2 linked regions of the Homo sapiens genome follow. The protein of the gene in region 2 interacts with the protein of the main gene of each other region in a pairwise test. Each region holds a gene or a part of one and is shown on either strand. Other genes may lie near its edges.

Region 1 (3,500 bases), on a different chromosome or scaffold from region 2:
TATTTGTACACACTAAGACTCACATAATTCAAAAGAAAAGATTTGACATTCAGGCTTATTTTTCTAAAACTTCTCATTTTTTGTTTTAATGCTTAATTGTTATGTATGTTTTAGAATATAAGATAGGAAATTAAAAGAAAAATCCCAAGCTTTTAAACTCTAGGTTCTTAGATAGAATGACTATATCTAGAAATAAATTGTGTAGGGTTCCTGAGGATTCCTATCAACTGAGGCTGACTGGCAGGTATGGCTAGTATTCTCATGAAATCCTCCCTTAAAATCTTGTTTGGGCAGTAACCTTAAAAATTTGGCAGTAGCTACACAAATTTGGTAAGCTCATAAATACATACCTGATAAGTTGATTTGCTTAAATTTTTTTATTTTTCAAATAGTTACACACTCTGTTATCATTGTAGCTATAAAATTAACAAAATAAACTGTCTTTTAATTAAAAGTTCACTGTTGAAAAACTCTGTACTTCACTTTTTATTAGTTCCTGTATTTTGCCATACTAACAAATTAAATGATATTCTAGATTTTTAAAAGATCTAAAAAGCCTACTTTACTTAAAAAATTTAAGACATTATAGCACTACCAAATTTGGGATTTTTGGCTACCATGAATTCTGAATAATTATTTTACAAATTGAGTTCCTGCTTAAGGAGAGAAAATATTTATTAGCACATCTGCATTTCAAAGCTCTTGTTTTGAGAACTCTTCTACATAACTAAATAGATTAAAGTAACATTGTTATACAGTCCGCATATTTTTATATTCATTTCTTTAGTAAGAATTATTTTCCACATTTACCTAGAAACTACAGCTTTCTATTTCATCAGGGAATGACAACACATTTTACCAATACGAGGAATCACATTTTTTTGGAAAGTACACCATATAATGTGTTTTGCTTTACAGCTCTTTTCGAAACTGGTAACTATATAGAGTGAAGTAAAAAGTGGAATCTATTTTCCTTTCCCAACTCTAAGACCTTCTATCTGGGCCAGACTTTGATATTTGCCCCTTGGCTGAGAATCCGCATATCCAACTTCACACTTAGCTGCAGTGAAGTAGCCCTGCAGGCAGGCCGACTTCAACGAACCACTAGTGGTATCATCATTAAAATCCTGCTGAAGGTCACCATGGTAACCGCCTGCTGAGGCTTCACTGCTGCACTCGGCATCTCCTAATCAGCTACCATGTGAAATGCAAATTCAGACAGTCTGAAAATTAGTCAAGAAGAATAGGGGATGAGGATGCAGATATGTGAAATATTCATGCGCTTCATGGAAAAAAGAAGACAGCATGAATGACACAACAAAGAAAGGCCCCTGACATTCTTGCTATCATTTTGCATTATTGTTCACACCCCACTGTATTTCCAGGCCTATAGTTCTGAAGTTGGTTTTGTGAAATGCCATATTTATAGTCTATACCCAAAATAGTAATTAAAAATGGCTAACATAATAGTATTAACATCAAATAAAGATAATACTTTTAAATTATCATCACTGCTCTGTAACAGTTTATTCTAATTACCTGAATACAAATGCTATGCAGAAAAAAACAGGCATCACTGATTATCAGTATCAAAACTACCAGAAGAAAAAGTGCCTATTATATTCTAGGAACACAAATGCTTTACATGTGGTGAAAATTCTTTAGAGATATTTATTATTCAAGTTACACGAACTCAAATTTCCTTACATAATACTAAGACCCTATGCTATTCGTTTCACAATAGAAAGACTGACATGATTACCTAATAAGTGAACATTATAATTGTTTTATATTTTTCCTTTTCTCCTTTCCATTTTCCTGAGGCAAAAAATCTGTTGCTCATGAGAAGGTGCGATGTCCTAACTCAACACACTATTTTCTCTGGGTAGGTCCCTGATGAGTATTCCATAAAGAGCTAATATGAAACATTTTAGTTGACCTGAGATACTGCTATTCTGCATACATCCTCCTTAAATATTCGTAAAATGATGATACGTTAGGCTAAAATGGGAGATGTTTTGTTCAATGAAAGACTGGACATAGGGTAGAGCCAAAACAACTCACTTCAATGGGTTACCAAAGCAAGCAAGCAAGCATTCAGACTCAGATCTTAATAAGGTAGCCTTCTAAGATTTTCAGCCACAACTAACACACTTTTTAAACATGTCTACAATGATAACCTCGAAACATTTCCCCAGTAGAATCTGAGTATAGCAGTGAGGTGATGATAGGACAGGTATTGTCAAAGGAGAGAAGGTAAAGCTTAAATAATAAGGCTCAGAGATATGTAGTTAAGAGATGCGTGTTTCGAGTTTTGGAAAACATGGACGAAAGGGAAGTTCTGCCAAAATAGAAAATTACAACTGTGTGCTGGTCTGGTCTGGGACTGTGAGAATAAGGAGTTAGCCCTGTTAGGAAGGGCCATCAGACATGATGATTAACTAGAGCCTAAGTATGAGCATTAATTCTGCCCTTTGCACGATTCAGTACACTGTAGAGTCAGCTACTATTCTTATCACACCTAGAAAGTGGCCAATTTTACACCACATGCTGTGTTGTGTTGCACTACACATTATCAATTGCAGAGTCAACTCTTTAGACAGCAAGTCTCCAAGAGAATGAAAACAGAATTAAAAAGTGCTAGTTCTGCTACCTATACCATTCATTTTCATTTTTGGATAAAGTAAAATTTCTTGGTAAAATAAAAATGTTAGCAAAATGGACAACAGAAGAACATGTGGGCTGAAAATGACTTACTTCTTCTGAATAGTGATCTGAAGGAAGAGGTGGGTAGTCACACTGTTCTATCTTCTTACACAGTGAGTATAAATTCATTTTGTCACCATAGAAAGGACTTTGTAATGCAGCCATCTGTAAAATGCCCCCAATGAAACTGATATAGTTAGATGGTAACTTAAAAGGTGATTTCATCAAGTATATTATACGGGGGTAGAAAATAATCACAAATATTTTAAATAGAGATACCTGGGCATTTTGATTTTTATGAATATCCCCTTCTGAGGAAATTTATTAAGAGTTAAAAATCTTACTGCAACTTTTGGTTATTTTTTTTCCAACATTTAAAATTCCCTAAAATAGAGAATTAGCATATTTCTTTATATACAAATGCAACATAAAACAATAAAGAAAAATAACACATAATTTAAAAACTCTTTGTACCTATAATGACACAAAAACAACTACTATATCTCACAACAAAACAGTCATCACAAGGTGTAGCTCAACCATACAGAACAAACATGAAACTGAAGTTAAAACTGAATTATAATCTAGCATAGGGAAGAGAATGCAGAGCATTTTCTCTTGCATAATAGTTTCTGAAGATAAAGGTTATTCTGAGAAAAAGCAGTCTTTTCAATTTAAATGCAATAACTGATCCCCAAATAGTTTACAATGAATTAGAACTCTTTTGATAATGTCTCAAAAACATTAAATTAAATATGTTCAAAAGCTCTATGAGTCATAGCTGTAATTCAAGG
Region 2 (3,500 bases):
CGAACTCATTCACCATTCACATTATTCCCTATCGTAGATACAATAAACATAATTTACTCTCTTACTGATACACACTCAGGCTATTTTCCAGATTCACTTTTGTTGTTGTTTTTATTCATTTTTTGAGACAGAGTTTTGCTCTCGTTGCCCAGGCTGGAGTGCAATGACATGATCTCGGCTCACTACAACCTCTGCCTCCTGGGTTCAAGTGACTCTCCTGCCTCAGCCTCCTGAGTAGCCAGAATGACAGGCATGCACCACCATGCCTGGCTCATTTTGTATTTTTAGTAGAGACGGGGTTTCTCCGTGTTGGTCAGGCTGGTCTCGGACTCCCAGCCTCAGGTGATCTGCCCACCTCAGCCTCCCAAAGTGCTGGGATTATAGGCGTAAGCCACCACGCCTGGCCAGATTCACCTTTACAAGCAATGCTATGATACAATAACAATGTGCTTCCTTATTGCACTTGTGTTTTCATTTATTTCTACAGAACAATTAGACTTCCAGCATTAACCACTTGTGTTCATTTGCCATCTGAAATTTCTATTAACTGTCTATCCCTACCTGTTGTCATTCTTTCTTTAGGTTTCCTCATCAATTTGTAAGAACTCTTTGTATATTATGTATAATATCCATTTTTGCTTTATGCGCCATATTTTTTTCATGCCCATCGTTATTTTTTACTTTACAGTTTCTTTGCCATATAAAATGCTTAATTTTAATGAAGCCAAAATATATATATATAGGACTAGGTGCAATGGCTCATGCCTGTAATCCCAGCAGTTTGGGAGGCTAAGCCAAAAGAACTGCTTGAGCCTAGGAGTTCAAGCCCAGCCTCGGCAGCCATAGCAAGAATTCGTCTCTACTAAAAATTAAAAAATTAGCCAGGTATAGTGGCACATACCTGTAGTCCTTGCTACTTGGGAGGATAGGTCAGGAGGATTACTTAAGTCCAGGAATTGGAGGTTGCAGTGAGTTATGATCATGCTACTGCACTCCAGCCTGGGTGACACAGCAAGACCCTCTCTCAAAATATACATACACATATATGTATCTTTTCTTTCATGGATTCCAGATTTCTTGCCTTACATAATTTCCCCTACCACAAGGTTGTACAAACATTCCCTCAATTAATTTTCTTGGGAGTTTACTTTTTTGTATTTTTAAATATGTAAATGTCTTTGAAAATGGATACACTGCCCAACGCCTTTCCTACTACTGTGCTCTGGACATGCCACCCTCACACAGCTGGGCAATATGGCCAGCCTGGTGGAGTGAAATAGGAATTCAACTTTCATTTTGTTCCAGATGGATAGCCAAACATGGTTGATTGAACTGGAAATCTAAGTTCCTAAATACCCTCAAACCTCTTTCTGAATTCTGTTGTGTTAGTAAGATTTCTTTTTTTTTTTTTTTTTTTTGAGACGGAGTTTCACTCTTGTTGCTCAGGCTGGAGTGCAATGGCATGATCTCAGCTGCAACCTCCACCTCCTGGGTTCAAGTGATTCTCCTGCCTCAGCCTCCTGAGTAGCTGGGATTACAGGCATGAGACACCATGCCCGGATAATTTTGTATTTTTAGTAGAGATGGGGTTTCTCCACGTTGGTCAGGCTGGTCTCGAACTCCCGACCTCGGGTGATCCACCCGCCTCAGCCTCCCAAAGTGCTGGGATTACAGGCATGAGCCACTGTGCCTGGCCTTTTTTTTTTTTTTTTTTTTTTTTTTTTTGAGACAGAGTCTTGCTCTGTCACCCAGATTAGAGTGCAGTGGCATGATCTTGGCGCACTACAACCTCTGCTTCCCAGGTTCAAGCTATTCTCCTGCCTCAGCCTCCCGAATAGATTACAGGCATGTGCCACCACGCCCAGCTAATTTTTTTGTATGTTCAGTAGAGACAGGGTTTCACCATGTTGGCCAGGCTGGTCTCGAACTTCTGATCTCAAGTGATCTACCCGCCTCAGCCTTCCAAAGTGCTGCGATTACAGGCCTGAGCCATCACACCTGGCCAGTGTTAGTAAGATTTCTTGATACCGAAGCATCCTTACATTCCTAAAATAAACCTTTCACTTCTTCAAGCAATACATTCTTTTGCTGAAGCACTGTTAAATTCAATTTGCTCATCTTTACTTGGAAGTATTGATTCACATATCACTTTTAACTCTTTTGTATGGCTAACGTTAACTTTGTGTTCTGTTGTTCCATCTTATTGAGTGGTTTGGGGGTTCAGGTATTTTGCACTAGGTGTTGAATTGTTTGCAGTGACAACTGAAAGACGCTTGCTGCTAGATGGCAATTTAACTGGCCTGTGAGGTGCACAGCCACAAGCTTTTTAATATTAGCATCCTTTCTTGCTTCATAAAATGACTTTTGTAAAAAGAGACCAGAGATACAATAGATTCATTCACCATAAAAAAATTATTTAAAAATGAAGATTTTTTTCCCTGAATGTTTTGGAATATGGATGTTACTTTTTCATATTTCCTTTTTTCTTCTTTTTGAGACAGGGTCCTGCTGTGTTGCCCAGGCTGGAGTGCAGTGGTGTGATCATGGCTCACTGCAGCTTTGACCTCCTGGACTCAACTGACCACTCCCACATCAGCCTCCTAAGTAGATGGGACCACAGGTGCAAGCCATCACATCTGACTAATTTTTGTATTTTTACTACAGATAAGGTTTCACCATGTTGCCCAGTGTGGTCTCAAACTCCTGGGCTCAAGTGATCCACCTGTCTCAGCCTCCCAAAGTGTAGGGATAACAGGTGTGGTGAGCCACCGCGCCCAGCCACTATTACTTTTTCTTGAAAAAATATACCCTTAAATGAAATTTTACTTGTTCTGTACTCACCAGCACAACAATTCCAGCAACAACTGCTATCACCACAACCACAATAACAGCAATAACACCAGCTTTTAGACCCTGCATTGAGAATTCAGGTGCTTTTTCATCAACATAATAAATTAAAGTTTGACCAGGATCCAGATCCAGTTGTTCCCCATTTACTGTCAGGTCCATTTTCTTAGAATGAAACAAGGATTCACCTTTAACCTGTATTGAAAAGGAGAAAAGGAATTAAAAATATTTAAGGAAACCAACCATGGCCACATATAATTACATACAAATTGTATGCCAAAAGAACCGCTGCCAAGAATCTTTATGGTTTTAGTGATAACAATCTAATTTATTGGAACTTTAAAAAACTGTTTATTACAGGAACCTTTCAACATACACGAAAGTAGAAAGAGTAGTGCAATGATGCCCATGTACCTATCACCCAGATGCAAGGCCAACAACACATAGCCTCTCTTACTTCATCTTTTCTTCCTTTCATCCTTTCACCCCCGCCCAGATTATTTTGAAGCAAACCTCATATTTCAGCAGAAAATACCTCACTATAATATATTAAAGTTTCAACAAAATATTTTAATCATATCAGTTACAGTCTTTTTTAACAGACTTTTATTTGTGTAAATTATAAATATCATAGGGGAGCATATATGCACAAA

Evidence for each region. The genes of interacting proteins can lie anywhere in the genome.
Region 1: the proteins of EPCAM (region 2) and NEK7 interact in binary tests that used the Homo sapiens proteins (3 or more experiments, as listed by UniProt).

What each region holds. Positions count from the first base shown.
Region 1 is NC_000001.11:198,296,498-198,299,997, reverse strand, and holds part of NEK7 (serine/threonine-protein kinase Nek7), read right to left. Parts: intron 2,872-3,500; coding exon 2,758-2,871; intron 1-2,757. UniProt on the Homo sapiens protein: Protein kinase which plays an important role in mitotic cell cycle progression. Required for microtubule nucleation activity of the centrosome, robust mitotic spindle formation and cytokinesis.
Region 2 is NC_000002.12:47,379,311-47,382,810, reverse strand, and holds part of EPCAM (epithelial cell adhesion molecule precursor), read right to left. Parts: intron 3,043-3,500; coding exon 2,842-3,042; intron 1-2,841.